2 linked regions of the Homo sapiens genome follow. The protein of the gene in region 2 purifies or fractionates together with the protein of the main gene of each other region. This does not show direct contact. Each region holds a gene or a part of one and is shown on either strand. Other genes may lie near its edges.

Evidence for each region.
Region 1: the proteins of CAMK2G (region 2) and CAMK2N1 purify together in Homo sapiens (affinity purification with mass spectrometry; 2 studies listed by BioGRID and IntAct, with this or other methods). This does not show direct contact.

What each region holds. Positions count from the first base shown.
Region 1 is NC_000001.11:20,483,211-20,490,221, forward strand, and holds the start of CAMK2N1 (calcium/calmodulin-dependent protein kinase II inhibitor 1), read right to left. Parts: upstream 3,001-7,011; 5' UTR 2,170-3,000; coding exon 2,004-2,169; intron 510-2,003; coding exon 439-509; 3' UTR 1-438. UniProt on the Homo sapiens protein: Potent and specific inhibitor of CaM-kinase II (CAMK2). Plays a role in the maintenance of long-term retrieval-induced memory in response to contextual fear.
Region 2 is NC_000010.11:73,868,052-73,884,314, reverse strand, and holds the start of CAMK2G (calcium/calmodulin-dependent protein kinase type II subunit gamma), read left to right. Parts: upstream 1-9,759; 5' UTR 9,760-9,853; coding exon 9,854-9,918; exon of another isoform or gene 9,919-11,112; coding exon of another isoform or gene 11,113-11,114; intron 11,115-11,231; coding exon 11,232-11,326; intron 11,327-16,263.

The sequences.
Region 1 (7,011 bases), on a different chromosome or scaffold from region 2:
GAACAGCCAAATCAGCGAAGAATGCCAACACCTCAAAACACCTGGTGTTGCCGCTTCATTAAGTGGTTCAAAATCCAGATCTATAATTGCGCAATATTCACCGTATATAAAAAGAAATGGATATTAATTTTGACAAATAGCTGCAACTGAGACTTCTTTTTATTTCTTTATATGTGTATATAGTGAATTTTTATTATTTTTAAAATTTTATTTATTTTTTTATTTTTATTTTTGCAGAGGAGCCCAGAGCCTTCTCCTCCTCCTCCTCCTCCTCTCGCCTCATCTGTCTCCCGGCCTGATACCAGATACAGGTTGTTGATTTCATCGTGGGTAGCAAGCTAGTAATAAATTTCAAAGTGCTTTCTCTTTTCATGCTTTTTGCCAATAACTGTTACCGCCGTTCTTATTCTCTCCCTTAACTCATTGTCTTTGGGGGAGTTAGACACCAGGAGGTGCCTTGTCGGTCATATTTTTCAGCACGTCATCAATCCTATCATCTTCAATAACAACTGCAAAAAAAGGGGGGAAAAGAGAGGTGAGCGCGCTGGGGCCTAGCCAGAGGTCTCTGACATTTCCCGTTATGCCCAGAGTGGGAGGTCGGGAGAGGAGAGGGCGAGGGAGCAGGGCTCACTGCGCGGTGAAACAGCTCCATCCTCCGTCCCTGCCAGGGGTCCCTTCCCTGCTTTCCTCTGAACCACCCACCACCCTCTATCCTCCAGCCTGCGTCCCAGCTCCATTCTGAGAAAAGGAAACAGAGGGCGCCAACCCAGCCGCTCCTGCTGCAGCCAGGGCGCGCACTGGCCCGCGTCCTCCCCGCACCAGGCGCACTAATTTAGACAGAAATGTCTGGAGCTGGGATAGGAGAGGGAGCCAAAGTCTTTGGGTCTCGGGACCCCAGGTAAGTCCCGAGCGCAGCTCCGGTGGGCAAGGCTAGGTGCGGAGATGAGCGGAACCAGGAGGGGACGCCAAAACCGGTTCCCACGACGCGCAGCGGGTGGGGGTTAGGGCCTGGCCTGGGCGGGCGCCCCCTCCTGCGCGCCCTCTCCCAGCCGCTGGCCGACTGACTCGGCCGCCCCGCGCTCCCCGCTGCCGCAGAGGTCAGAGCCTCCCTTCGCTGCCTGCCAGGGACACATGCCGTAACCTCGGCCTCTCTTACCGTCTCGACTTAGCCTCGCCTTTCTCAGTCCCTCCATCGTCCCTCGGCGCGACGGCCGGCAGCCGATCGAGGTCTCTGTCTCTCCCTGTCTAAGGTGTCGGTCGCCCTTATTGTTTCGGCGGCTTCTGCGTCCTCCCCAAACGCGCGTCCTCGGCTCTGTCTCTCCCGCTTCAGCTCCCCTCTCGGGAGCTTTGTCTCGGTCTCTGCCACCCTCGGTCTCCCGCGTACCCCCTCCCCTCCATCCCTGCGTCTCAGTCTCTCTCTGCAGCCGTCGGTCCCCCTCATTGTCCCCGCGTCTCTGGAGCTCCTCTCGGAGCCTCTCTGCGTCTCCGCCTCTCTGGGGCTTTTCCAGCTCTCGCGCGGATCGCCCAGGCCTGGCAAACCCCCTCCCAAGCCAAGTAACAATGAAAAGCCCGTGCGACCCGAACACCCTAGCCTTCCCCGCAGGAATGGGATCCTCCCCACGCAGGTCCCCACGCCGTCCCCTGGGGGTCCCTGGGACCCCCTCCCCACAGGGTTATGGAGCGAGTGCAGCTGTGACTACACTGCGCAAAAGGCGGGGGTGGGGGGCGCAAATCAAAAAGCAAACTTTGCCGCGCGGGTGGAGACCCCCAGCTGCTGCTAGAAGCCGCCACGCCCCCAGGGTGACCCAGCCGGGGATCCGGCTTAGGGGGACGCGTTCCTGCGACCCGCTTCAGCCGGACCCGCAGTGCGGGATCCCCCAATTCTGCAAGAAGGGATTCCGTCAGGTCTGAACGGGCTCCAGCGGGTGGGAGACCTCCGCAACCCTTGTTCAGGCCGCGGCGCGGGAAAAAGGGGGTGTCAGACAAGGGGGCCGCGAACTCACCCCGCTTGCTCCGGCCGATCTGGCCCAGCTTGGGCGGCCGCTTGTTCTGCCCGGCGCCGAAGAAGTTGTTGGTGTCCTGCAGGCGGCAGGAGAAGATCTGGCCCACGTCGCCGCCGTCGCCGTAGGGGCTCAGCTTCTCGTCGCCGTAGGGCAGCACCTCCGACATGGTCGCGTCCGGGGGCTCCGCCGCGGCGCCTCCTCCGCCCGCGTCCCCGCCCGCGGCGGACAGGGTCAGCGGCGCTGGGGCCGGGGGCGGCCGGCCGGGGACGGCCCGCGGGCTGCTGCGGCGGTGGCGCCGGCGAGAGGCCGGGGGACGCCGCTAGGGCAAGAGCGCGGCACTCGCGCGAGCGGCCCGGAGAGCGCCCGCGGCTGCGCTGCGCTGCGCTCCGGCTCCGCGCGCGAGTGGCTGCTGCTCCGCCAGAGGCGAGCAGGACTCACATCCTCGGCGCGCTGGGGCTCTGGGCGGGGGCCGGGCCGGGCGGGGCCGCGAGCCGGGAGGGAGGAGACGTCCCTGCGAGCCCGGAGGGCGCGGGACCGAGGAGGGCGCACCCCGGGAGCCGGGCGGGCCGGTCCTGCGGCGAGTGCGGGCGGCGGCGCCGGTTCGGGGAGGCAGACTGGGAGCTGCGAGCGGCGGGGCTGCGAGGGGCGGAGGGGGAGGGGAGGGAGAGAGGAGGGAGGGCACCGGGGAGGAAACCCGGAGGGAGGGTGGGGGAGAGAAACCGAGAGGGAGACGGGGCTGAAAAACAGGGACTGAAAGACAGGGAGGCAGGGGAGACGGTGGAAGGAGACAGAGGAGAGGGGGAGAGGAAGGAGAGGAGGAGAAAGAAGAAAAGGTGGGGTGGGGGACGAGCTAGAACGGAGAGACAGGGGAAAGATGAGAGGAGGAGGGAAAGGATCGGGAGGGAGAGGAAGAGGGTCGGAGAGGGAAGGAAGGGAGAAAAACAGAGGGGGGAGAGGGAGGCAGGGATAGAGGAGGCAGCGAGCTGCGAGGAGAAATGCCGGCCGCGGCGCCGAGGCGAGGCGCGGGGAGGAGGGCGGGAGGAGGCGGGGAGGAGGGGACCCGCGGGCCTCGGGGAGAGATCCCTGCGAGCGGAGCGACGTCACGGGGCCGCGCCGGCCGGCCCGGGCTGCCGCTAGCTTCCTGCCCCCGCCCCCAGCCCCCGCCGTCCCGCTCACGGGTGTTTACGGGGCCCGGAGCTGGTGCGCGCCCGCCCCGCAGCCGGCTTTGCCTCCCGAGGGGACCTCGGGGGGAGTGGGGGTTCCGGGAGCTGGAGAGGGAGCGGACAGACGACGCACACGCGGGGAAGGGCGGAAGCATGCTGACCCCCCTGGGGGGCAGATGCTGCGGGGCAAAGATCGGAGGGCTCCAGGGCGACCCGCGGACATAGCCTCCCCCGCCATCTGCAAACCGGGGAGCCCTTCCTCCCCACCACACTTGCTCCCCAATTCAGACCCTGAGGGCCCAGCCACTGGGGCCTCACACTCTCCTCCCGCCCCGGCTCAGTCCGACCTGGAAGGCCTCACTCCCCCACGCCCCCGCCCAACTGCGCTGGACTCCGGCTCCCGCAGGGCCTCCAGGAGGGGGAGGGGGAGAGGGAAGGGGCAGCCCCGCCTCCCGCAGGAGAAGGGAGCGCCTCATTACGCCGGGCTCGCCCGGGATGCCTGGCTCCCGGCGTCCGCTGCCTCCGCTGGGGACGTCCCGGGTCTGCCGCCCTCTGCCCTCGGGGGTCTCCCTTCCAGCAACAGCCGTGCGCCCTGTGGAGAGACTATGGCCTCTGAGAGGAGGAGCGGGCTCCTCGATGCCGGGAGGGAGACTGGGGCAGCCCCAGAGGCCTGGGAGGCGCATCTGCCAAGCAGATGGTAACTCCGAGGGGGCAAGGTGCATGAGGAGCGCTCATTATCCTCGCCGGAGCCAACAGCACCTGCCCTCCGCTGGAGACCGTCTTTGCTTAGTAGAGCCGGCCTGACCACAGGGAGGGGCAACCACCCCAAGGTCATGCCAGCTGCTGGAGGCAGGGCTAGGAAACACATCCAGGTGGCCCAGGTGAGTCTCACCTGGCTCATCCTGCTGCCCTGCAAGGGGTCCCATCAACAGTGAAAGGAGCTCTCCCCTCCTATCTAGAACTCTGGCGGGTGGGAGCTGGAGGCAGAAGGGGAAGGTTTTTTCCTGGTATAACATCTGGTGGAGGGGGGAGTCAGTCCAGCCCCCTCTCCAAACGGTGTAAAAGGATTGGCTGGCCTCGGGAAGCCAGAATCCATGGGGGGAGGAGGAAGGGAGCAGAGAAAAGGGAGACTGAAGCAATGTGGCAGGTGGAATAAGCATGTCCCTTGGATTTAGGTCTGGGTTTGAATCCCAACCCCGTGGTTTGCTGACTGTGTGACCCTGGGTGGGTCATCTCTCCTCTCTGAGCTTCCATGGTCTCAGCTGTCAAATGGGTATATGGCTAGCCAGTACCTGTGTACCCTGCAGGACAGTTATGAAAACAAAAATAAAATCAGGCTCTGATGCCTGGCTGAGAGTGGATGTGCAATAGACATTTGAGAGATGACTTAATGAGTGAGAAAGAACGGTAGCACTTCATTTGTTTCCATTTCAGGACCACATGAGCTGGGAGAATCCTTAGAGATGAGCTGGGCCTATCCCTCATTTCCATATGGGGAAACAGAAGTCCAGAGGGCCAGGGGCTAGCCCCAAATCCCACAGTTTGTCGATGGCAGAAGCCTCAGGTCCCCAGACTGACCTTGTTCCTCTCCACAAGCCACCTGGCTCATTCATTAGGACTTTCCCAAGTGCCTGCTTTGAGGTTAGTGCCAAAGCCAAGTGCTAAGAGAGAAAACAAGAGCGTAACAAGCAGGATGATAAAGTTCCAAGAAGCGCTGACATTTGTCCCCTTTCTTATTTTCCTCCAACGCATTTTCACATCTATTATTGACCTTGCTTCTCAAAATAAATACCTTTTGAGGTAGAAAGAGGAGACGTTGCATCCCTGTTTAACTGACATAGCAGAAAGAGGATAAGTGACTTGCCCAAGGTCACAGCCTAGTGATAGAGCCAGGAGAAGCCACTGTGGCCAGCCCTGATTCCGTAGGGGACTCCCTGCAGTGGTGACAGCATACAGGGCTGGGACCACCCCATTCATCTCACATCCGCCTGGCTCCTTCCTTGCTGCTGAGAGGCACAAAGCAATTTACACGCTGAGCACCTACGACAGTCCCACTGCACAGAAGGTAAGCAGAAAGACCCAGCGAGGACTGACGAATCCCTGCACACACAGCAAGTGAGAGCAAGAAGAGAAGTCCAATTTCCACCCCATCTGTTTTTATGTTTACCTTGCCTTGTTCCAAATAAGGTTAAAGGTGACAGCATCCCATGTTCCCAACTCAGTACCCACCCCCTTCAGGAAGCACACGCGCCTCCCAGCACATGGTGCTTGACAGCTTGAAAAGCATCTCCATGACTATTCGCTCATTAATCGCTAAGCTTCGGAAGTGGAGGGGACTGGGACTGTCAGGCCCATTTCACAGACAAGGTGCCTGAAGGTGGAGTGATGTCCCCAGGGTCACACAGAAGTTCTGCAAGGGCAAATTGCGAATCAGTATGGCTTTCCTCCACCTCCATTCCTCCCACTTGTCTTTATCACAAAGGCCTCACTCAGTCCTCCGTTCCTTCCAGCATTTGGTGGGGGCATCTCTTCATCTTGAAGTCAACACATGTGCTGGGACTCCATTCCTACCTGTTTACACTCATTCCCCAAAGCCAAGAGGCTGGCTCTGAACCAGAGGCCCAGAGCTGTGTTGAGGAGGCCAGACCCAGGTGAAGGAACCTAATAAGGCAGGAATGAAGGCTTCCCTCCCCACCTCCCCACAAGGAAGCCTGGCAGTACATGGTCTGGGGCAGTAGTCTAGGATGAAGAGCCCACTGGGGCAGTCAAGTTCAAAGCCCTGGTTGGGCGTGGTGGCTCACACCTATAATCCCAGTACTTTGGGAGGCTGAGGCAGTCGGATTGCTTGAGTGTAGGAGTTGTAGACCAGCCTGGGCAATATAGTGAGACCCTCATCTCTACAAAAAATTTAAAAAGGAATCGGGCATGGTGGGGCACACTTGTGATCCCAGCTACTCGGGAGGCTGATCAGGGAGGATTGTTTGAGCCAGGGAAATTGAAGCTGCAGTGAGCCATGATTGCACCACTGCATTCCAGCATGGACAACAGAGCGAGACGCCATCTCAAAAAAAAAAGTTCAAAGCCCTGCTCGGTCATTTCCTAGGTCTGTGATCCTTTCACTCTCTGTGCCTAAGTTTTTTCATCTGTCAAATTGGCATAAGAATCATTATTACTTGGTGGTTTATTGTGGGGAGGAGATCATACACACACCACGCCTAGCACAGAATCAGTCCTCAATAAAAGTGGTTGTTATTATTTGCTATAGGCTTTCTTTGTGGCTTTGAAAAAGCTGCCTCTGACTCTACATCATCCAATGGGAAACCTGGAGAAGATCACATCTTTTCAGCGGCAAAACCAGTTTTCCCAAATCCAAAGTAGATAAAACCTGCTTGAAGCAAAGGTGGGGGTCCTAGGGCCTTACTCCAGCTTCCCCCTGAAACTTCATCTGAAACTCCTTCACCAAACCCCAGGACTCTAGAAATAAGAACCACAGGACCAGGCCATCTCCATGGACCCTTTCAGCACAGACATTCCAGGATCAAAAATAAGTATTTGATAGCCCAGACTGTGCACCGAGCCCCACACTCAAGCTGGTGGGATAAGAAAGGGGAAGGTCAGCCCCAGCAGGGCCCAGCACAGAAGGGAGGCTCAGCACACATCAGTTTCCCCTTGATCTCGTCTCCTCCCTCCAATCCAGATGGGGAAACTGAGGCACAGGCAGCGGCATCAGACAGTGATGGCAAGACGTAGAGAAGAACGTGGCTGTGGGACAGCCCAGCCCAGGCCTCTGTGCCTGCCTTCTGGGCTCGGTTCCTTCACCTGGGCATTGGATGGCAGGCCAAGCC
Region 2 (16,263 bases):
TTTCTTAAAAAGGAAGAAAAAGAGATAGGGAAGGAAGGAAGGGAGGGAAGGAAGGGAAGAAAGGGAAAGAAAGGAAGGAAAGGAAGGAAAGGAGGGAGGGAGGGAGGAAATAAAAAAAAGGTAGAGAAAGAAAGAGAAAAAGAAAGAGGAAAATGAATAAAATGGGTCAGCAAAGTTAGAAGGAGGGCTACTGCAGAAACTCGGGAGGCTGAGGAAGGCCTAGTCCAGGATGGTGGGAGGGAAATAAAAAAGAAGAGATGGATACAAGGACATGTAAAGGGAAAAATATATAGGTGTCAGTTCCTAATGATATACAGGATGATAATGATAACAAGTACCATTTATTTAGCATCAGGCATCGAACCATTCACCTACAAATACTATCATTAAATTATTATAACAACCCTACAGTGAAAGTTACAACATCTTTATTTTACCAATGAGGAACATGAAGCTCAGGGAGCTTAGTTACCTTGCCCAGGTCGCACAAGTATTAATAGTAAGCAGCAGTCCCAGAATTCAAACCCAGCTCTGCCCTCTAAGCGAGATAAGGGATGAGTCAAGATTGACTCCAAGATTCTGAACCTAGGTCATCAGCAACTAGTCACGTCACTGTCAGAGCCAAGGGAACCTGAGAAGAAAACTGGTCAAGGTTGGCAAGGGGTATAGTTACAATGGCTAATATTTATTGAGCCCTGACTATTCCAGGCACTGTTTTGCCCTTCACTTATACTGATAATTTATTCCTCATAAAATCCTATCAATAGATAGGAGGAATAAGTTCAAGAGATCTATCAGGAGATACAGCACAGTGATTGGCTGGGTGCAGTGGCCTGTAATCCCAGCACTTTGGGAGGCTGGGGTGGGTGGATCACTTGAGGTCAGGAGTTTGAGACCAGCCTGGCCAACATGGCAAAACTCTGTCTCCACTAAAATTACAATAAATAAATAAATAAATAAATAAATAAATAAATAAATAAATAAAAATTAGCTGAGTCTGGTGGCACGTACCTGTAATACCAACTTAAGCATGGGAGGCAGAGGTTGCAGTGAGCCAGGATCATGCTGCTGCACCCCAGCCTGGGCGACAGAGCGAGACCTTGTCTCAAAAAAAAATAAGTTAGCATGGTGACTATAGTTAATAACAATGTACTGTATTCTTGAAAATAACTAAGAAAGTCGATTCTAAAGTGTTCTCAATACAAAAAACAGTATGTGAGGTATGCATATGTTAATCAGCTGCATTTAGCCATTCCATAATGTATACATATTTCAAAACAACATGTTGTATATGATAAATATATACATTTTTTTGCCAGTGAAAATAAATTAGATGCTAATTAAAAAAAAAAGTCTATGAAGTGAGTACTACTATTCCTATTTTGCCAGTAAGAAAACTGAGGCGCAGACAAGTCATAAAACACAGGCCAGGCACAGTGGTTCATGCCTGTAATCCCAGCACTTTGGGAGGCCAAGGCGGACAGATCACTGAGGTCAGGAGTTTGAGACCAGCCTGGGCAACATGGTGAAACCCCGTCTCTACAAAAAATACAAAAAGAAAATAGCTGGGTATGGTGGCACACACCTGTAGAACCAGTTACTCAGGAGGCCGAGGTAGGTGGATAGATTGAGCTTGGGAAGTCTAGGCTGCAGTGAGCTGTGATTGCACCACTACACTCCAGCCTGGGCAACAGAACGAGACCATGTCTCAAAAACAAAAAACAAAAGAAATGCTCACAGGCTCCCATGGCTAGTGTGTTCTTAACCACCATGTTATCCAGCTTCTCAATGTGGTTAATTTGGATGGGGATCATGTTGAATTTGGGTGGATAGTGGGACATTCAAGTGGGAATGTCTGGAAGGGGATCATTTGTAGCTCAGGTCTGGGACCTAGCAGCCTCTGGACCTTGCCTGGAGTCCAGAGAGTTGGACATGGGTCTTTCTTTTTTTTTTTTTTTTTTCTTTTGAGATGGAGTCTCGCTCTGTCACCCAGGCTAAAGGGCACTGGCACGATCTTGGCCCACTGCAACCTCCGCCTTCCAGGTTCAAGTGATTCTCCTGTCTCAGCCTCCCAAATAGCTGGGATTACAGGCGAACACCCGCACACCTGGCTAATTTTTGTATTTTTAGTACAGACAGGGTTTCGCCATATTGGCCAGGCTGGTCTCGAACTCCTGACCTCTCAGGTGATCCTCTTGCCTGGGCCTCCCAAAGTGCTGGGATTACAGGCGTGAGCCACCATGCCCGGCCTGACATGGGTCCTTCCTGAGGCAAGTCCCTGCCTGGCCTGTTAGCCCACCCACAGCCAGGCACGATTTCCACATGGCTGGTCCCAGCTTTATGGCCTGTTTCTCCCCTCTTCACCCCCTCCCCTCCATTTCTCCTGACCACCCCATGTCCCAAACACCTGCCAAGCCCTCAGCACCTCAACACTGTGTTTTCCACTGGCATTGCCACCTCAACTCCACCTCTATCCACCAACATCCTTCCTCTCCTTCCTCTCTGTTAAGTCACTTCTGATGGTTCCAACTGATTCCATTACTCCCATTTACATCATACTTTGCTTTTACTTTCCAAGCATTTATTGAGTACCTACTACAGCCGAGGCACTTTAGATCCTGGGGATGCCAGGATGAACATAAACAGGAATAGACCCTACCCTCATTATGCCTGTAGTCATAGAAACACCTGTATACACTTGGGACGAGTGCTTTGAAGAAGTGGCAGGTGGTAGTTTTGGGGCTGTCAAGATACAAATTTGATCTGATCAAGAGGCCAGGGAAAGTTACCCTGAGAAAATGCTGCTTGGGCAGAGACCTGGAGGACAGACAGGCAAAGAGGGAAGGGAAGAGTGAGTCAGGCAGCCACTTGTGCAAAGATCCAGAGGCTGCCTGTGGTATTAATCTTGGGGCTTGTATCCTTGTTTTATTATCATGTTTATCTTCTTGTCCCCAGTGAGTAAAGCTCTTTAAGGCAGGGCCTATTTCTGGCCTGTTGCTGTCCGCTGGAGGGGTTAAGAATAAAGCTTGCCCAGGGCAGGGAGACAGTTGTTTGAATGGACTAAGGGGAAACTGCCTGTTTCTGCAGAGACCCCCAGTGCATCACCCCCAGAGTCCCTGGAGTGCAGACAGGTCATCCTGTGGCCATCTCTACCACCCTTCTTTGTGGTGGCCAGGGGCCAAGGAACAGCATCACTTCTAGCTCCAGACCCAGATTTATGTCTGTCCTTGATGAAGGTGTCTTCTTGCACTGAGCTGGGATTTCAGGTCTCCTTTGTTTGTGAGCATGGAGGTAGCCTGTCCTTGTGGGCTCCCTGCGAGTTACAGAGTTTGGGGCCACAGAAGGAACATCAGGGTGGTTGTACCAGGATGTGGGGTTTATTACGACCTCTGGGCCCTATTCTCCTCCTGCTGCCCCCTGGCCCACTCTGGCCACACCAGTCTTCTTTCCACCCCTCAAATATGCCATGACCTTTTTTTTTTTTTTTTTGAGACAGGGTCTCACTTTGTTGTACAGGCTGGAGTGCAGTGGCATGATCACGGCTTACTGCATCCTCTGCCTCCCAGGCTTAAGTGATCCTCAGGCCTCAGCCTCCCGAGTAGCTGGGACCATGACCATTTTTTATCTCAGGACTTTGTCACTGCCCCTTCCACCAGGAATGCTCTTGTTTGGATCTTCAAACAACTACCTCCTTATCATCATTTCTAAATGTTATTCCTAAATGTCTCCCTTAAAAGTTGCGTTCAGAGAGCCCCCAGGTCTGAGCACCTCGGTTAAAGGCGCCCTCTATGTTCCCTACCCCGTCACTCTCTATCCCCATTACTTGATTTTACTTTCTCTGTAGTAGGACCTAACTCCAGTCCAAAATGACCTCTTTCCAGTTACACTGCCTGCCTACAGGGATGTAAGCTACAAGAGGCAGAGTTTTGCTGGATTCTCCTCTTCTGTTTCCTAAATGACTGTAACAGAGGAGCTACTCAGTAAAATAAATGAATGAATGAATGAATGAACAAATGTCCCCTGTGGGTACATGCCTGGATTCAGGAGGCTGGGACTAGATTGAGATAAATCCACACTGAGTTTAAGATTCCAATCTAGATGGTATTGGTGGTGTCAGCCTATCTGGATTGCTCCCCATACAATTTACTGACCCCCCTATCTCTTTCTATTCACTGCCCTTCAATCATATTCTCGCAGCTCCACCATAAATTGTGTTAGCTATTTGCCCTGGGACATGCTACTTCACCTTTCTAAACTTCAGTTTCCTCCTCTGTAAAACTCCCACACTTGCAGGGTGATGGTGAGGGTTAAATAGAGTAGCTTATTTAGAGTGCTTAGTGCATGTGCCTTGTAAGTAGCAAGCTTTCTCTAGACGTTAGCTACGCTGGTGAGTTTTGTCATCCTCACCACACCTCCCTTTGTCATTTTTTTTTGACGCTCCCCTTCCTGTACCTCCCTGTGCCCCTCACGTTTGCCCACCAGGGGGCCCCACATGCCGCTCTTCCTGCCCAGGTCGTCCACGCTGACGCATGCCGCCCGCCTGTCGTCACATCAGTACCTCCCTTGTGCCTCTGATGACAGCTCTGTCACTGTCTCTGATGACAGATTTGTCCACTGGTTCTGCCTCTTCACTGCAAATATCTCAGCCCCTTGCACCCAATACTTCATTCATTCCATAAATGACAGCACCTACTATGTGCCAGGCTTCAATGGTAGGTGTTGGGGATACAAAGAGAAAGATCAGCAATGCCCTGCCTTCAAGAAGCTCACAGTCTATAGGAGGATGGCAGAGGGGTCAAGAGGCAGAGGGGGCCATGCCCTGGACTTGATGGATGAGAAGGCCAGGATCACATTGCTCTTTGGAACTAACCCGCTGGCTGGAAAATGTAAGGAAGTTCCCCCCTATCAGGCCCTCAGCTCCTCACGTTACATATTTCTACACTTACCTGAATTTCTCAGCTCAGCTCTTCATCCCTAGTGCCTCAAACTCTATTCCAGACACCTCAGTTCCTTACACCAGATGCTGCAGCCCTCGCCCCAAACTCTCATTCCAAAATCTCCTACGTCCCAAACTTTAGGAGCTCAGCCACTCACCTCAAATATCTCAGCCCCTCCTCTAAGAAATACTGCAGTCAGGCCAAGTGCTGTGGCTCATGTCTGTAACCCCAGCACTTAGGGAGGCTGAGGCAGGAGGACTGCTTGAGTTCAGGAGTTCAAGACCAGCCCAGGCAACACAGCAAGACCTCGTCTCTACTAAAAATAAAAAAAGAAATTAGTAGGACATGGTGGCTTGTGCCTGTAGTCCCAGCTACTCAGGAGACTGAGGTGGGAGGATCACTTGAGCCCAGGAGATAGAAGCTGCAGTGAGCTAGGATCATGCCACTGAACAGTCTAGGCGACATGGTGAGACTTTATCTTAAAAAAAAAAAGAAAAGAAAAAAAAAAATGCTGCACTCATTGACATAATCTGTGGTTTCAGTCTTTTTTTTTTTTTTTTTTTCCAGCTTTTAGACTCAGGAAGGATGGGAAAAAGTAGTGATTTGGAGAAGCCCACTGGTAGGCTTTTTCTGATGTACCTTCCAGGGCAAAGAGGGGCATCCTTCACTCCCTCCCAGTGTGAGGATTGCTTATTTAAATACTGTGTTTACAGTGGCTCATGCCTGTAATCACAGCACTTTGAGAGGCCAAAGCAGGAGGACAGCCTGAGGCCAGGAGTTCAAGACCAGCCTGGGCAACATAGCAAGACCCTCATTTCTACCAAAAAAAATTTAATTAAGCTCGGTATAGTGGCATGGACCTATAGTCCCAGCCATTCAGGAGGCTGAGGCAGGAGAATGGCTTGAGCCCAGGAGTTAGAGGCTGCAGTAAGTTAGGATCACACCACTGCACCACAGCCTGGGTGACAGAGTGAGACACTGTCTCAAAACAAAACAAATGTTGTATTTGCTTTCTCACTCTTTCCTATCTCCATGATCACATCTTCTCTCCAGTTTTAAATGCCGCACCATTAATAATTCTCTCAGAGTTCCTTGGAGAGAGGTCATGATCTCATCACTCCTAATTCTCCAAAACTAATCATAGAATCTCAGAGTTGGAAAGGACCCAGAAGTCCAATGGGTTCCAAACTTCTTTTTAGTCAGGGACTCTTAACTGCAACCAAATCTTATGTGGAACGTCAATATATATATGTTGACTAGCTGTTGCGGCCTGGCCTCGTAACCCCATGGATTCTGCTTAGAATATGGATTGAAAACCCCTCATGGACGTGAGACTTTGCAGGCTTCAAAGAGAAAGATGGTCCCACCCAGTGGGGTGCCTCTGGTGCTTATCAGGGTACTGATATCTTTGTCATTCCCTGTTCTCTGAGCTCTGAGCACAGCCTGAGTGCTGGTGCTGCCCAGGGGACTGGCTGCAACCAGAGCAACCCAGCCCAAAGACCCCAGGAGGTTGCCATAGACACTGAAGTGGAGGGAGCTGGTGAGCTTGTTATTATTTGTGTGTATCTTCCCTCTAATTGCTGTAGGGTAGCTGGAGGTTGTGTGGGCGCTACAGCAGTGGGGATAGAGGAGGGTGTATGTGCGAGGGTGTGTGTTTGTGTGTGCACACAGAAGTGTCTATAGGCTCCAAACCACCACCGTGGATGCGTCAGAGGCTGCGCTGTTGAGAGAAGTAGTGAGGGAGGAAGGGAAAAGTGAAGTAGAGATACAAAGGAAAAAGGAGGCTGGACAAGGTGGCTCATGCCTGTAATCCTAGCACTTTTGGAGGCCAAGACAGGATGATTGCTTGAGTCTACGAGTTTGAGACCAGCCTGGTCAAAATTGTGAGACCTCATCTCTATAAAAAAATGTAAAACTAGCTGAGTGTGGTGGCACATGCCTGTAGTCCTAGCTACTTGGGAGGGTGAAGCTGCAGTGAGCCGTGACAGCACCACTGTACTCCAGCCTGGGGGACAGAGCGAGACCCTGTCTGAGGGGTTAAAAAAAAAAGACGATGGATTGAGTTTTCTTCTAATTGTGTGAATTCTAATTTTCTACTTTATTTGAATGTTTCAAAAAGTAAAAGGCAGTGACAAACCTATGGTAGGGAGTCATATTTGTTGAAAGGCAGCTAGCTCCACTTATATAGTACTATGAGTCACCCCTGAGGCTTCACTCCAATATTTTTCTCATCACTCTTCCTTTTACCTAGAGACACAATGCAAAATGCTTTACGTGGTTACCCCAAAACACCTAGTGTTGAACCCTCCCCTCAGTCGGGATGATGTTCCTCTCACAGCAGGCACATGAGACTGGTCAGGGTTGTAGTCCTGTTTTACATTTGCCCCAGGATACTCCTAGGGGACTCCATGGCAGCCCTCCTCTGTGCTTGTTCTGACCTCTCAGGGTCTCCTCCACTCCACCTTCCATTCATGAATAGAAAGTTTCAAGTATCAGCCTGGAGGTCAGGAAGCAAGTTGCCTTGAGCACTTAGGAAGGGCACATTGATGATCAACTGATATTCAAAGTTGCTTCTGCTTTGGAGATGGATGACAGAAACTCAACACTTACTGGCATCCCCATGTATGCAATCTCATTGCCCTACCCCACACTGGGACTTGGGACCTGGCTCTCACCCAGGTGCTTTGAGATAGGAAGTGGCCTTACTCTCCACTTTACCTCCTGTTGCCCTGGGGAGGGGTAGGGCATGGTGCTCTGGCACTGCTACCCTTTCCCTTGGCCCTCTCTACCCTTCTCCCAAGAGAACTGCTAATGCTTTTCCTTTAGGGCTTCATGCCCTCCCATTCCCTAATCACCCCTACTGGGCAGTCTGGTTCCCAAAGCAGCTCTCAGGGCTGTTGGGTCAGGACAGGAGGGGAGCACTCCTGGAGAGCTCTGCCCCACCCACCCCTCAGGGAGGCAGCTTGGGAGGCTGGGACACCTCTCAGCCCCCTCCTCTGGCAGAGCGAGCCTGCTGGCGAGGGAGACCCGACTCCCAGTGGGCGTCCTGCTGTAATCAAGACTGAGTGGCAGCCTCTGGCTGAGCTCCACCCTGCCCAGTTGGGGCTGGCCTCAGCCTCAGGGGACAGCTGCCCAGGCAGGTCAGGAACCTGCCCAGCCTGTTTGTCCCCCATCAAGACAGTTATGTGCCTCTGTCCCACCAACTTGTGATGGTGGGGACAGGAGAAGGGATGGTATCTCCCTCTGCCATCCCACAAATATTTACTGAGGGTCAGGGGCTGAGTGTACAATGGTGAACAAAAGGTGCAGAGGCCCCGCTTTATTGGAGCCTACAATTCAGCGGGAAGCTAGTTTTTGTATTTTTAGTAGAGACAGGATTTCACCATGTTGGCCAGGCTGGTCTCGAACTCCTGACCTCATGATCCACCCGCCTCAGCCTCCCAAAGTGCTGGGATTACAGGTATGAGCCACCACGCCCGGCCCAGCAAATGTAGTTCTAATTAGGCACCAAGTACTATTCTAAGTGCCTTAGACCATTTAATGCTGACAGGCCTATGAGGTAGGTAATATTATTGTTCCCAGCCGGGCGAGGTGGCTCATGAAGCCACCTCTGTACTACATACATACTTCATTACTTCATGTATGTACTACATACATACTTCATTACTACAACATAATGAAGCCCCGTCTGTACTAAAAATACAAAAAAATTAGCCGAGCGTGGTGGCGCGCGCCCATAATCCCAGCTACTCGGGAGGCTGAGGCAGGAGAATCGCTTGAACCCAGGAGGTGGAGGCTGCAGTGAGCCAAGATCGCACCACTGCACTCCAGCCCGGGCAACAGCGCAAGACTCCGTCTCAAAAAAAAGATTCAGTGACTTACCCCAGGTCACAGAGCTGATCAGTGAGTTGCCTAGAAATCCAATCCAGGCAGTTTGATGCAAGTTCACGCTTAGACAGCTATGAGATAGCTCTACTGCCCCTTATACCAGTCAATGCATCACTACAAAATGTGGTAGGTGCCAGAAAATAAAAGTACGAGGGTGCCTTGCAAGAAAATGGGGATTTCCCCTTTCTTCCACTTTCTCTTCTAGCCCCCACTGCACAAAGCCTTTTCAAGTCTTCCTACTTCACCCCTTTCATTTCTGGCCGGATAGAGAATACTCTTTCATCTCTGCAGTTATGGTGCAGGAAGGCAGAGTCCTACCTGTATCCTTGCCCCTGGCCTGGTCTCCCTGATCAACCCGCGCCTGAAGGGTTTCTTTCTAATAATGGCCCTGGTGCTTGCGCAAGTCTAGACTGTCAGCTCCCAGAGGGAAGGCGGCTGGCAGCTGGCTCTGCGCAGGCTGGGGGCGCCTCCCGGGCGTGCAGCCTGGCACAGGCTCCTTGACCTTGGCTCTCTCCCCACGTGCTAGGAGCCCGGTTGGGGGCTCGGGACCCGCGTGTAGGACCCGTCCAGAGAGGTCAGTGGTCCAGACTCCTACACTCCTAACACATGCACCCTCGCATGCACGTTCCCGAGCCCGCGCGGGGTCCGCCCCGGGACAAGCCCATAAGTCGCGAACCTTCCAGCTCCGTCTGCCCAGACAGGTGGCCCGGAGCGGGGACCCCCTCCCCTCGGCTGCCCCGCGCGCCTGGCCCAGCGAGGGCGGCTCCGGGGCGGGGCGGGGCCGGCGGCGGGAGGCCCCTCCCCGGGGGCGGGCCGGGGGCCGGGCGGGGGGGGGGACTGGCGGGGCCTGGGGGCGGGGCGGGGCGGGCGGCGCGGGGGTGTCCCTCCCTCCCTCGCTCTCCCCGGTAAAGTCTCGCGGTGCTGCCGGGCTCAGCCCCGTCTCCTCCTCTTGCTCCCTCGGCCGGGCGGCGGTGACTGTGCACCGACGTCGGCGCGGGCTGCACCGCCGCGTCCGCCCGCCCGCCAGCATGGCCACCACCGCCACCTGCACCCGTTTCACCGACGACTACCAGCTCTTCGAGGAGCTTGGCAAGTACGGCCCGCCCGCCGCGGTCCCCTGCCTGCCCTGCCGCCCGGGAGCTATGCGGCTTCTCGCCCCGCCCCCCGGCCCTGCACCGGCCGCTGCGGCTCCCCCTCGGCCGCCCCACCCCCGCCTTTCCCGCCCGCCGCCTTCGGTCCCCGCGCCCCCCGCGCACTGCCCCGCATCCCCCTCCGCGCCCTGCAGCAACTGGCGGGGCCGCTGCTCCCCACGCGCCGCCGCGGACACCGCAGACCCCGGACCGCTCCCGGGTGCCCTCCAGCCCCGCCCCTCCGCACCCTTCAGGCGCCCCCCTCCCGACCACCTCCCAACGCTGCCCGGTTGCTCACTCCGCACCCTGAACCCAGGTCCCACGCGCCTCGCACTCAGGACCCTCCCCAGCCCTGCAGCCCTAGCTCTGCTGCGGAGCCCGGGCGTGGGGGGGCTGTTTGGCGCCCGGCCCCGCCCCCCGCGGGTGCCGCTCCAGGCTCCCAGCCCCGCGGCTGGGCAGTGCTGCGGCACCCCCGTCCCCTCCCCCCACCCCTGCAGTGGTCCCGGGAGCCGCGCCGCAGCCTCAGCATCCCCCTCCCCTCCGCACTGAGCTGGCCGCTGCAGCAGCCCCGGCCCCCCACCCCCACCCGCGGCGCCGAGCCCGGCCACTGCAGCCCCCGCCCCGCCCGCCCCCCCAGACGTTTCCAGAGCTCAGAGTGCGAGCTCCCGTTTGACGGGGACGTCAAGGAAAATAGCATGGGAAGGGGAGTTCTTGATGTCTGACTGTGTCCTCTCTTCCCTTGCTGTCAGTTGAGCCGGGATGCAGTGAGATGAAACCGGCTGTGGGGGGGTTTGAGCCTCACTTTGCCCCATGGTTGAGGGAGATTTCTCTTTCAGGGGATGATACCCTCTTTTTAATCTTTCCTTCCCCGACCTTCAACTGTTCCTGCTGAGAGAAGGGCAGGGTCTCTCTGCTCCCTTCTGCCCTGGTTCTCTTGGCCGGGACCGCAGGGCTGTCTGAGATGCAGCAGGTGTGTGTTTTCAGCATCGCCCACCCGCTCCTGATGTGCAGCCTGAGGTGGAGGCTGTTGCCTTGCCCAGGGACTGGATGAGGGGGTGGGAGCGCGGCACGCCACCCACATCTGTTCAGTGTCCTGCGGTGGCCGCGTCCTTTTGCCTCATGTTGGATGGTGGTGGTCACAGCGCCGGTGTGTGTGCATGTACGTGAGTGTGACTAGAGGTCTGGTGGTGGGAGCATCATCGTCCCCAGACTTGAAGTGTGTCTGTGTCACTCTGCCCTGCTCCGTGTCCCAGTTCTTTTCCCCTTCTCCCTCCAGGGGTGCTTTCTCTGTGGTCCGCAGGTGTGTGAAGAAAACCTCCACGCAGGAGTACGCAGCAAAAATCATCAATACCAAGAAGTTGTCTGCCCGGGGTGAGTGTTCCCTGTCTTGACCTCTTCCTGAGGGTGCCTCCAGGGGCCATGGTTTCTTTTGAGGAAGCCCCAGGAATTGGGGGTTGTGCGTTTTAGCACTTGGAGAGGAGTTGGAATTTCAGACTGGTTGGACTTTGTGTCAGGCTGAAGCCAGAAAAGGAGTTGCATGGGGGACTGGAAGCGCCCAGGTACAAAAGAATGAAGGAAGAGATGCAAGTAGCTGCAGTGGCCCCCAAAGGCTCAAGGGAGTTCGGTCTTCAGGGAGGTGGAGGATATGGGGGTAGTGGGTGGTACAGAATGGGGAGCTCTTAATTTGGGGCATTTGGAGCCTCTCCCTTTGGGGCAGTGGTGGCTACTGCAGGCCTTTCCTGGTCCCTGTGCCCCAGTGGTGACTTAGGATGGAAATGCAGTAAGTGAGCAGCTCTGACAAAGCCAGCCTCCCCTGCCCACCAGGCGGCAGAACAGACTCCCAAGGGAAGGGAATCTGTAAACATCAGGGGAGGCTGCTACTGGCGAGGGCTTCTCAGGAACAAATTCTGCCAGATGAACTTGATTGCTTTTTTGATCAAATTACAAAGTTGGTGGTGCAGCAGCAGATGTAGTCTGTCCTGGGTGGAGGGTGATGCCTCATGGTCTAGAAATCCCAAAGGCCCGGTTTGGGCAGGAACTGCACTGCCTCCGAGTCTGAGGAGCATAAAGGCCAAGGCCTTGGGGCCTCACTTGCGAGATCCTCCCAAGTACCTGAGGCTTGGAGGGTCAGGGCCTGTCTTTCACACCTTGAACCTACACTCTCTGAACTTCCTATTGGGTACTTGCCAAACTCACCTCATCTGATAGGTGTAGACCCAGCAATGTGTGAAGTGCTCTGGGAACAGGTCTGGTGAGTACAGAGGTCAGATCTCGGAGGGCTGCAGGGTGCAGCTGGGGGACAAAGGTTGTGAAACTCAGAGAAAGGAATTAGGGCTGGGCAGTAGGATGCCATAAATATATTAGGAGCCAGGACACATGCCCTGGGGAAGACATGGGCTTTGGCCAATAATGACACGGGTTTCTCTGGGATAAGAGACATAATAGATGTCCCAAATGCTTAGAGAAGCTCTACAATTCCACGGGCTTCTGTCGTGTTGGCAGTTGTTCTGGGACCTGTTTAGCAGGGCCGTGTCCACTCCCTGACTGGGGACTCTCTCTCCATCCCTCTAGTAGGGCACTAATTGCTGACTCCCATCCAGCTCCATCTCTTGCTGTTCGTGTACATTGCCTATAAAGTTGGACTTGTTTGTTTTCTTTCTCTCTGGGTACCTTGAGTCTGAGGATGGTTGCCATAGAGATATGTGGGCAGTCAGATACCCTGGAGTGGGGGTGGGGGGGACAACAGGGGCTGGGCTCTCTGGCAGACATCCTCTGGCCAAGGATGGAAGGTGCAGGCAGGAACAATGGCTTGAGGCTGGATACCTCTCTTGCCCACACAGCAGAGCCCTGGTGCATCAGAAACAGGGCTGGCATCTGGTGTCTCCAGTTGATGATGCAATGCTTTGCTCTCTTCATCTCACCAGTGTCCTCTGACCCATGGGTAAGAGAAGGAGAGATGGCTGGGAGCCGAATTCTGGGATGTGAGGATAGGTGATGTGGTGACTTCCTGCAGCTGCCTGACTGGGGCTTTCATTTCCTACTCCTTCCCTACCTGCGTAAATTTCCATGACCTGTGTGATAGCCTCCCTTTCCCTTCCTCACCTCCTTTTAACCTTGTCCCATCTTTCCCAATGGATATCTTTCCCTGGCCAAACTGGATGAGACTTGATTTCTCGTTGATTTTTTTTTTTTTCCCCTCAAGAAGAGGATTCTTGTGTAAAAGTATATGCTTCAGACAGCAACTCCCCCTCTCCCAAGATGGATATGCCAAGACTGGGCTCTGTTGTGTGGCCTCATGTGCCAGGTTGACTTTGGGACAGAGGCACAGATGATAGGCACAGATGCCAGCCAGAGGGGTCAGAATGTGTAAGTGCCAGCCAGTACTGTGTGGAGGTGGGAAAGTGGAAAGGGGCTGTCTTGGAGATGGAGGGAACAAGGTGGGGCTGGACTATAGGTGTGGGCATGGGAGATGTGAACTCCTGGAGAGATCTGGGCCAGGGTAGCCATGGGCTGGTTCCCATGGGGTTAGGGAGTGAGGGCCATGGCTTCCCTGCAGACTCTCAGTTTACACTATATATTTTATAAAGGTGCAGCCACTGGAGCTGGGTTTCACTCATCGCTGTCTGCCTAGGTCTCCGCAGGTGTTGGATTTCTGTGTCTGGGAATGTCGTGGGCCCACCAGGGTCATCTGTGAAGGTCTGAAGGGGCTTGCTGTGTTCACTGGGTCTTCCTGCCTCCTGTCTTTCTTGTTTGTGATTCTCTGGGCTACAAACTGAAAAGATAAAAAGAGGGTATAGAGCTGTTTCTCCTTGGCATCCCTGGTGAGGTGGCTAGGAGTCAGGGAGAGGGATCACCTGTTCTTCTGGGGGGGTCCAATCGAGACAGGAAGCCTTCTTTTGGGCTGTTGTGTCTTGTCACTGTGGCCTCAGAGGCCCACATTGGCGGCTAGGTTGCAAGGTGGGGAGTTCATGCGGATATGCGTTGAGCACTGTCTTTGTCTGCGGGCCTGTCTACATAAAGTCACTGAAAGTCACATAACGTCACTCCGTTTGCTTCAGAACCGTGATAGGAGTGGAGCTGGGCTCTTAAGGGAGCCCATGGTTCCAAGCTTAGCTCCACTAGGCCGAAGGAGGCATTTAAAATAGGCTTGGATGCAGGAGCTAGTGGGCCAGGTGATGGCAATGATAAGTCGTTATTTTAAGATTTAAGAGCACCCCCCTCAAGGAGCCTGAGCCCTTATGTCTTTTTTTATTTTTAAATCTTCATATTCCCTTCTTATCTTTATTCATATGCATACAGATTTTCACCTCGTGGAGCATAACATTTTATATCCTGCTCTCTTTGCTTATATCCAAAGCATTTCCCCCATATTACTACAGTTGAAGGGCAAATGGTCCTTTCTTCTACGTCGTTTAGGATTTATCCCTAAAACAATCAGCATCACAAGAAACTTCTGTATATGTACCATTTATCTGGATTCCAGTTGCTTTTACCAAGATAGATACTGGGGTAATGCCCTTGGCCTTACTAAGAGATGCTACCGGAAACAGTGTTTTGAAATCTGTTATAATACTTTAACATATTTATTTAATCTGTACATTCCGTGTGAAGAAATTTCTTTTGAAGCTAAATGTAAGCAAAAGCTTTCCTCTTTGTGAGGACCTGAGAGGTGAGGGAAGGGTCCTTATGTGTTTCTATACTTCTGCATGGGCAGGCCCTAGCGAAGTGCCTGACGTATGCCAGCCACATACACATTAAATGAATGGGTCAAGAGGACTATGTAACCAATCATGGTTGCCTTTTGGCTTTGGCTCCTAGGAAACTCAGAGTCAAGTTGCCAGAGCCCTTGTACCCTGCTACAGACTTGGGTCCTCCCTTTCTGATCCAGGGAGCCAAGCTGCAGACCTGATACGGCTGCTGGAAGAGAGGACAGATGAGGATAAAGACCTGTGCTTGGGGCATAAGGCAGAGTGGGAGATGTAGGCAGACATTTAGCTGATGATTCCTCCTTCCCTGTCACTAAATGGCACTATAGGGCCACTGTTGGGATCTCTTCCAGGTAGTGATTTTCAATTTTAGTGTGCGTAAGGATCACCCTGAGTACTAGTTTAAAAAATACAGACTTCTGGGCTTTAGCCACAGAGATTCTGCTTTAGGAGGTCTAGGGTGGAGCTGCAGAATCTGCATTTTTAACACATGCTCCAGTGAATTTCATGCAGGTGAGGCATGAGCCACTCTTTAAGAGATGCCACCTAAAATCTGCAACAACAGTTGCTCTTGCCATGCCCTCTGGAATTCAACAGACACACCTTGGCCCATCCTTCTCCAGATTGTGTGTCTGCCACTATGTGGCCATCTGTGCACATGGGCTGTTCTGTGATTAGGGGCCTCGTTCTGGGCCTCGGGATTGGGGTGTCTGTGTCTGAGGCTGCGGCAAGCTGGGTGGCTCGGGTTGTGGCATGTTGGCCACCAGAAGGGTAAAGGCTGTCCCTTTCTGGGTCCAGCTGGCCCTGGGGACTGAAATGGGATCCCCTGGATGGTGCCAGCTGAGAGTCCCCGCCCCCTTAGTGTTGGCCTGAGTAGCCCCCATGACATTTGTGTCCCCTGTGGTATCTCCAAGTGAGACTTTCCTGTTAAGGATCTGGGTGAAGTGAGGGAAAGAGAAGGGAGGGGGAAGCAGTAATGCAGGGAGTGGGAGAAGGAAGAGAAATCCACACAGCACTGGAACACAGGCCTCGAGGAAGCATTTAAGGAGGCTGTGTGCGAAACCATGCTTTCCTCCTGAGGATAAAACAGGCCAATTTCTGTAAACAGAGAAATGGGCATCCTGCATATCAGTGATGGAGCGCCTCTACTTTCTCTCCTGAAGGGATGGAAGCCGACTGCAGGTCCCTCTGTGCAAAGGCTTCTGCCAGGCGGCTTTTGTCACGCGGTCACGTTGAGCTGTGGGCCTTAGCACACACAACACTGGCCTGTCCCCCTCCCCTCCCACCTGTCTTCCTAGAGTGACTTGGGGTGCTGCATCATGGTGTGGGGATGGAGGTGGGAAGGTTGCCCTGTCCTGTCAGGGAGGCCCCTGCCTTCTTCCTGCTGCTTCCTCTGGTCCCTTGTCACCATACCCTTGTTCGAAGCTGTGCTGAAACCCTAGAGGTGAGTGGCTGACCCCATTCTCTGCTGAGACTGGAGATAGGGAAGGGGAGGCTGGGTGTGACCATTCCTGCTCCCATCTGTATGCTTGCTGCTCTCTGAACAGCTTTGGCAGACCAACAAGGGCCTGATCCCATGGGTGCCAAAAGGGTGGTGACAGG